Linked DNA regions of Homo sapiens: region 1 is linked to region 2. Evidence: fine-mapped expression QTL. A gene starts in region 2. The other region holds a variant in brackets. All regions are shown on one strand. Distances are between the middles of the regions.

Region 1 (4,524 bases), 130 kb after region 2:
CCATCACCTGCTTCAAACTTTTGCTCAATATTCACTTACGAGGCCAACCCTGACCACTCTACTTAACACTGCCCTCTGTCCCCATTCCCACCATGCTCATTTCTTTCTTTTTGAAACAAGGTCTTGCTTTATTGCCCAGGCTGGAGTACACTGGTGCAATCACAGCTCACAGCAACTTCAACCTCCCAGGCTTAAACAATCCTCCCGCCTCAGCCACCCTAGGAACTGAGACTACAGCTGCATGCCACAACACATGGTTTTTTTTTTTTTTTTTTTTTTGAGACGGAGTCTCGGTCACCCAGGCTGAAGTGTAAGGGTGCGATCTTGGCTCACTGCAATGTCTGCCTTTTGGGTTCAAGTGATTCTCTGCCTCCCGAGTAGCTGGGATTACAGGCACCCACCACCACACCTGGCTAATGTTTGTATTTTTAGTAGAGATGGGGTTTCACCATCTTGGCTAGGCTGGTCTTGAACTTCTGACCTCGTGATCCACCCTCCTCGGCCTCCCAAAGTGCTGGGATTACAGGCGTGAGCCACTGCGTCTGGCCTTTTAAAAAATTTTTTTTTAGACATGAGGTCTTATGTTGCCCAGGCTGGTCTTAAGCTCCTGGGCTTAAGCGATCCTCCCACCTCAGCCTCCTAAAGTTCTGGGATTACAGGCGTGAGCAACTGTAACATGAGGTCCCAGCTTCATGTTCATTTTTTGTTGTTGCTACAACAAAGTACCCTACATTTAGTGGCATCAAACACCACAAATCTACCATCTTACAGTTCTGGGGGCCAGAAGCCCAACTAGGTCTATTAAGGCTAAAGTCAAGGTGTCAGAGGGGCTGCATTCCTTCTGGGGGAGGCTCTAGACAGAATGTGCTCCTTTGCCTTTCCCAGCTTCTAGAAGCCACCCCCATTCCTTGACTTACCTCGTGACTCCATATTCAAGGCCAGAAGTGCAGCATCTTCAAATCTCCCTCTCTGACCTCTTCTTCCATTACCACATCACTTTCTCTAATTCTGACTCTCCTACCTCCTTCTCTTATAAAGATCCTTGTGATTGGTGGGTATGAGGGCTCCCATCTGTAATCCCAACAAGTTGGGAGGCCAAAGAGGAAGGATTGCTTGAGGCCAAGAGTTAGAGATCAGCCTGGGGAAAATAGGAAGACCCTGCCTTTACAAAATTAAAATTAAAATCAGCTGGACATGGTGATGCACGCCTGTAGTTCCAGCTACTGGAGAGGCTAAGGTGGGAGGATTGCTTTAGCCTAGGAGGTCAAGGCTGCAGTGAGCTATGATCACATCACTGCACTCCAGCCTCAGTGGCAGAGTGAGACTCTGTCTCCAATATAAGAAAAGAAATATACATTTGGTCTCTGCCCCTGGTTCCTGGCATAGAGCTTCCAAAGCTCTTATAAAGCCCTTCGTGACAGAGGTAATAGGAGCATTTTCTGTTTTGATATTTAGTCTTAGTCCCAGGTTCCTGACACAAGGGCCTCTAAGGTCTTTCAGATCTGCAGCATGGTAAGAATGCATGTGGGATGCTGTTGAGCTAACAGGGTGGCTGCAAGCTCCTAGACTGCTTCAGGAGGAGGGCTAGCTGCCAGAGAAAGCAACCACATTTTTTTTTTAAACGGAGTTTGGCTCTTGTAGCCCAGGCTGGAGTGCAATGGCACAATCTCAGCTCACTACAACCTCCACCTCCCGGGTTCAAGCAATTCTCCTGCCTTGGCCTCCCGAGTAGCTGGAATTATAGGGATGTCTCACAACGCCTAACTAATTGTTGTTATTTTTAGTAGAAACAGGGTTTCACCATGTTGGTCAGGCTGGTCTCAAACTCCTGACCTCAAGTGGTCCATGTGCCTCAGCCTTCCAAACTGCTAGGATTACAGGAGTGAGCCACCGCACCTGGCCCCAACCACATTTTTTGAGGCTTGGAACTTTCAGCCTCACCTGCTGAACTCCAGGAGGCAAAAGGAACTGGAGATTGACTTAACTACCAATGGCCAATGATTTTATCAATCATGCCTCCATAAAAACCCAAACAGCAGGGTTTGGAGAGCTTCTGTG[T/C]TGCTAAACACAAGGAGGTCCTGGGAGGGTAGTGTGCCCAACAGAGGGCATGGAAGCTCTGTGCCCCTCCCCACTTACCTTGTCCTGTGCATCTCTTTCATTGGCTGTTCCTGAGATGGAGCCATTACACTGAGCCAGTAACAGAAAATAAGGTGGCCAGATGCGCTGGCTCATGCCCGTAATCCCAGCACTTTGGGAGGCAGAGGTGGGCGGAATCACTTGAGCCTAGGAATTTGAGACCAGCCTGGGCAACATAAGAGGACCCCGTCTATACAAAAAATAAAAGAAATTAGCCAAATGTGGTGGTGGGAACCCTGTAATTCCAGCTACTTGAGAGGCTGCAGCAGGAGAATCACTTGAGCCCTGGAGGTTGAGGCTTCAATGAGCAATGATTGCACCACTGCACACCAGCCTGGACAACAGAGCGAGGCCCTGTCTCTTAAAAAGGAAAGAAAAAAACCTGTTTTTCTAAGTTCTGTGAGTTGTTCTAGTAAATAATTAAACTCAAGAAGAGGGTCATGGGAAACCCTGATTTCTAACTGGTTGGTCAAAATACAGGTGACAACCTAGGACTTGCAACTGGCATCTGAAGTGAGAGTGGTCTTGTGGGACTGAGCCCCTAACCTGTGGGTTCTGCGCTAACTCTAGGTAGTGTCAGAATGGAATTGTGGGATACGCGGTTGGTATCCAGAGAGTTGGAGAACTGGTGTAGAAACTCTGCACACACATTTGGTCAGAAGTCTGTGAGTAGAGAGAAACGTGTTGCGGGAAGTCAGGGACCCCAAACGGAAGGACCAGCTGAAGCCACGGCAGAAGAACATAAATTGTGAAGATTTCATGGACATTTATTAGTTCCCCAAATTAATACTTCTATAATTTCTTGGGCCTATCTTTACTGCAATCTCTGAACATAAATTGTGAAGATTTCATGGACACTTATCACTTCCCTAATCAATACCCTTGTGATTTCCTATGCCTGTCTTTACTTTAATCTCTTAATCCGGTCATCTTCGTAAGCTGAGGATGAATGTCCCTGCAGGACCCTGTGATAATTGCGTTAACTGCACAAGTTGTTTAAACAGTATGAAACCTGGGCACCTTGAAAAAAAAAACAGGATAACAGCAATTTCAGGGAACAAGGGAGATAACCTTAAACTCTGGCTGCCTGTGGGCCGGGTGGAACAGAGCCATATTTCTCTTCTTTCAAAAGCAAATAGGAGAAATATTGCTGAATTCTTTTTCTCAGCAAAGAACATCCCTGAGAAAGAGAATGCATCCCTAAGGGGAGGCCTCTGAAATGGCCGCTTTGGGGACGGCTGTCTTTTACAGTCGTTGATAAGGGATGAAATAAGCCCTGGGCTCGCGTGGCGCTCCCAGGCTTATCAGGACAAGGAAATTCCCGCCTAATAAATTTTGGTCAGATGGGTTGTCTGCTCTCAAACCCTTTCTCCTGATAAGATGTTATCAATGACAATGCGTGCCCGAAACTTCATTAGCAATTTTAATTTCGCCCCGGTCCTGTGGTCCTGTGATCTTGCCCTGCCTCCATTTGCCTTGTGATATTTTATTACCTTGTGAAGCATGTGATCTCTGTGACCCACACCCTATTCGTACACTCCCTCCCCTTTTGAAAATCACTAATAAAAACTTGTTGGTTTTGCAGCTTGCGGGGCATCACGGAACCTGCCGACATGTGATGTCTCCCCTGGACACCCAGCTTTAAAATTTCTCTCTTTTGTACTCTTTTCCTTTATTTCTCAGACCGGCCAACACTCAGGGAAAACAGAAAAGAACCTACATGAAATATCGGGGTGAATTTCCCCCGATATCACACGGGCTCTTCTCTCACCTGTCTACCTGCTTAACTGCATAGGAGAGGCAATGCATGGTGCTCATGAACAAGGCAAGCATTGAAGTCAGACCAGACTAACATTTGACTCAGTCTTAATATTCAGGTGAGCTTGGGCAAATCGCTCATTAACCCCAAGTCTTCATCATTTTGTGCATATAATGGGGATAACTGTGGCACCCACCTGTTTTTGTGAGAATCAATGAAATATTATGCTTGATGTTATTGTGATCATGATACTATCTGACAAGGGCAGTGATGCATGATAACATCAAAAAATTAGAAACTGTAATGAGGTCTCTTGGGCAAAATTCCATACAAGCAAATTACTGTCTCTACAAAGCATTTCTGCCACACTTAATTCACCATTCCCTGAACAAAATGTGCCATCTTCATTGTTCAGGTCTGTATAGTGCTGGTTTCCCTGCCTGGGCAGCTCACTCCATCCCATCCCAGCCCAATCCCCATCCCTCCACCTCCCCCTTCCCTCCCCACTCTCATACAACTCTTCCTTATCTTACAGGACTTGGCTTCAATGTCACCTTAACTGGAAGCTTCTCTCCCTCTCCAGAAGAGCTTCCCATTGCACTTGATGCATGCACTATTATTTGATCATT
Region 2 (4,000 bases):
AAGGGTTTAATTTTAAGAACTTAGCTAGGAATGGGTGAAATCCTACCCAATTAATAGAGTTCTGCAAATTAGTAACAAAGTGTAAAATGAAAGGAAGGGTCCCTTGGAGATGTGAAATTCTTCTATTGAGAGTCCTGTCTTCTTTATTCAAGAAGTTTGTAGCCATTTTCAGAATTCACTCAAGAACCAACTTCTTAATTTAGATATCAGCGAACAAGTCTGTAAAAAGCAAGTATTTGTCAGCAATATGTGCTTTATCTTCCCAGTTTTTAACACTTTATGCCTATTTACATATTGATAAAAAGAAAAGCCTAGAACATTTCTTGTAAGGCCTCTATTTTCTATCCAGAGCTGAAAGTTCAGGTCATAAAAACACACACACACACAAAACCCACTGTATTTGAGATTATCAGTCTCTACCAAAACAGGGAGGGAGAGTAAAACTCTCCCTTTACAAATGGCTTGACAGAGAATTTTATAGAAATCCCTATCCCTTTTGCCATCCTCCCATTAATCCCTCTCGCTCCCCTGCCACCCCTTTTTTTGAGACAGGGTTTGCTTTGTCTCCCAGACTGGAGTATAGTGGCACGTTCACAGCTCACTGAAGCCTCGACCTCCCCAGCTCAAGCAATCCTCCTATTTCAGCTTCCCAAGTAGCTGGGACTACAGGCGTGAGCCACTGTGCCTGGCCCTCTCTGTCTTCTCTAACTTACTACACCATCCAAGAAATGAGACAGTGAGGCTTAAGACACCCAAATCTTGGTGAAAATATAGGATGGGGGTTGGGGGTGTAGAAGAAGTGACTGCCTATCAAGAAGTGAGAATTTCAGAAGTAACTCATAGGCATGGTGACTAAGGAGTTAACAGTGAGTGAACAATCAACTCCAAAGTCCAGGAGAGCTGTCTAGATGGGCTACACTGCTCTTCTCCCATAGGAGCCCTGTTTCATCTCACTGCTTCTCCTTAGCTTGTCTCTTAACACCATCTCCATTTGGTGTCTGCTTCCTCCTGCCCTATTCTCTTAAGTTCCCTTCCTTTACCCTCTGCCAGAATTGTCTTTTCAGAGCGAGTGGCGATGAAAATGGAGAGCATGGGTTTTACAAGTAAACTCTACAGAATTTTGTAACTTGGTGTTTTAGGATATGTGGATGTGTGTAAGAAAAGGGCAAAGTGTCTCAGGTTTCTGGGAGGTAACGGTGGATAAAGTTGGCGTTTACTGAAATGGTAACGCTGCAAGGCAAGTAAATTTGGGTAAGAAGCTGTTAAGAGTTCAGTTTTGGACATGTTTAGTTTGAGACAGCTGCGTGGTCTGCTCATGGTTAAACAGCTGTATAGTAAAAATAGCTTTCGTTGAGCACTTACTACTGCCAGGCAACATGCAAATCACTACGATCTCAATCTTCACTACACCCCTATGACCTGGGTTACTAATGGTCCCAAATGGCAGATGAAAAAATAAAGCTCCAAAAGGCGAAATAACTTCTCCGGTCGCTTCATGGTGCTGCAGGAACTCAAGCCTAGCTGGTTTCATTCCAAATCATGAGAAAATATGACGCCAAGTTTTCTCCACACTTCTTTGGAGACTCCCACGGACGTGCTAAAGAAGGACATTTTACTCCTAGTCCTTCTCCCCCACCCACCCGACTGCGCCACTCACCAGCTGTGTGATCTTGGACATATATAAACTCTCTGGAATTCAGTCCCCTCCCCGCCCAAAAGCGAGCAAATGATCTCTAAGCTCCTTACCACCCCAATTTTGCATTCGAGATACTCACCATGGCAAAAAATACACAAAGAGAAACACCACCACATCGAAAAGGATGAAAAGCCAGAGGTCCAACCAGTAGGAGTGTTTGGGAAGCCCATTTGCCCCAGACTGAGGCCTCACATCGAAGTTCTGCCTCCCTCCCTCGCTAAAGCCTCGCCGCTCCCGGAGACCATCTCGACCATCAACACCCGGTGCGTCCACCTCCATCTCGCTCCTGCAGCTTCGTAACAACCCTAGAAACCGAAAATGCTTAAGTTCCCGGACTTTGGTGTTCGCCGCACCGGAAACTGAGCGGAGTCCGGCCGCCTGCGCAGTGCGCCGCGCCCCGGGTTCCGGAATGCACTCTGAACCTACTCTTCCCAGCGCGCAGGCGCCTGGCTCGGCTTTCCGCTGCCTCCGTGACCGCTGGCATGAAGCGCGGCCTCCGCCTTGACACTAAGTCAATGGGCCCGCCTACTTCTGCCTCGCGGCGTCCCAGGCAGATAGCTGGTTATTCAGGTTTCGTTGGAAGAAATACGTTCTCGTCCCCCTGAAAGGCCCAGTCCAGTCAGGTGATGGACTCCTCCCTGAAACTGCACGAGGTCACCTCTCCTATCCCCGTATTCCGTTTGGATCCTTATGCCAACGTGTTAGGAAGGCCCCCTCTGGTGGGTTTTGTACTGTCTCTAGCATTTGACACTTAATATTTAAACACCACCAATGAGGTGGACGTCCTACTCACGGGACTGAGTTTCCAAACGGGCCAGAGAGCAGCACGTGAGCATTTTGCAGGTACTTCAAGGGAGTGGGTTTAAGAATAACCTGGCCGCGCCCCCCTGTAATCCCAGCACTTTGAGAGGCCGAGGCGGGCGGATCACCTGAGGTAAGGAGTTCGAGACCAGCCTGGCCAACATGCTGAAATCCCGTCTCTACTAAAAAAAAAAAAAAAAAAAAAAAAATCCAAAAATTAGCCGGGCGTGGTGGCAGGCGCCTGTAATCCCAGTTACTCGGGAGGCTGAGGCAGGAGAATCGCTTGAACCCGGGAGGCGGAGGTTGCAGTGAGCTGAGATCGTGCCACTATTGCACTCCAGCCTGGGCAACAGAGCGAGACTCCATCTGGGGGGAAATGGGGGTGGGAAGAATAACCCAAAGGTTATTTGACTTTGAGTGTGAGCCTCAGCAAGAACAGAATGCTAGCAGGAAGAAAATGACCTATACTGCCTGGATTTTACCTCGTGGGTCCAATTTCAAATATTCTCTTTCTTGTCACATTATGATTCCTGAATTGTTCAGAAAATAACGGGCACCCAGACATATAAGTGGTTCTCTTGGTGCATAGTAAATGGAGATAAGACTGTAGTTGTGTTTTTACAAAGTCATTAAATCGTCGTAAAACCTCTTTGAAGGGGCAGTACTCCATCTTATAGAATTAGGAAATGAGACACAAAAGGAGTGAATTGTCTAAGGTTACTAAAAAAATTATAAAGCCTAAAATTAACTCCAAATCCAGCACTCTTAAAGCTGTTCCATAGCTTCCTAACCTTGCTCCAATTTGCCTCCAAATCAATTGCCAGGTTTTAGAGACAAAGATAGTATACGACCTTTCAAGAAAAATGCTTTGTAGATTCTGGGATGAGAGGGCCATTACCTGAGAATTAATTAGATTGTGTGCTGTAATACAGATTGTCTGATGGTAGTAGACAAAAAGACCCTGGGCTTAAGTGGCATTGAATCTTTACAAAAATTAGGAAAGGCAAATAAACAATTGCCTCTACCAGAGATGGAAGCATTCTTCTCGCTGACAAGGTAGGATCAATTACTCCTAGTTATTGAAGTAGGATTGATAAAAAATTATTGAGATTATTAGTGTTGAAGAAGCATGACATAAACTGAACAGGTCTTGAAATGGTTTTAAACTTGTCTTTGGCCCAGAGTCACATGCTCATCATGAGGGGATGTTGACAGTATGATCTGTTCTAGAGTCAGGAACGTCTGCCAGACTTGGAAGAGCAACTAGTGCAAATAAGGAGGGGTTATTTAAACTAAATTCAGTTGAAAGATTCTATTTCCGACTTTACCCTTGTAAAAGTCCCACTGATTGTTGATTATTCCACATTACAGAAATGAGTTTAGAGTGTGTTATGGCTGATTTTGAACTACTGGCCTCAAGTGATCCTTCTGCCTCGACTTCCCAAAGTACTGGGATTACAGGCATGAGCCACCTTGCTCAGTTGGCATTTGCCATTATCAAAG

Alleles and levels. Alleles are on the strand shown, and positions count from the first base shown. SD is a standard deviation of normalised expression in the study named.
As copies of C replace T in region 1, the expression in rectum of the gene that starts at base 2,085 in region 2 goes down (large effect, 1.1 SD a copy in CEDAR).

What was found. PIP is the estimated chance that this variant, and not a neighbour inherited with it, causes the effect.
Region 1: its variant is the best candidate, but not a certain one, in a credible set for the expression of ARLN in rectum (CEDAR, PIP 0.61).

What each region holds. Positions count from the first base shown.
Region 1 is chr4:119,427,284-119,431,807 of GRCh38, forward strand. No RefSeq gene overlaps it. Among named protein-coding and RNA genes, the nearest start is that of LINC01061, 19 kb to the left of the region's middle. The variant T/C (reference allele first, on the strand shown) is at 2,059.
Region 2 is chr4:119,298,561-119,302,560 of GRCh38, forward strand. It overlaps ARLN (allregulin), which reads right to left and starts at 2,085. Exons shown (of 2, transcript NM_001001701.4): 1 at 1,776-2,085; 2 at 1-219. The coding sequence starts at 1,975. The coding sequence ends at 219. RefSeq lists enhancers at 1,679-1,728, 1,829-2,058.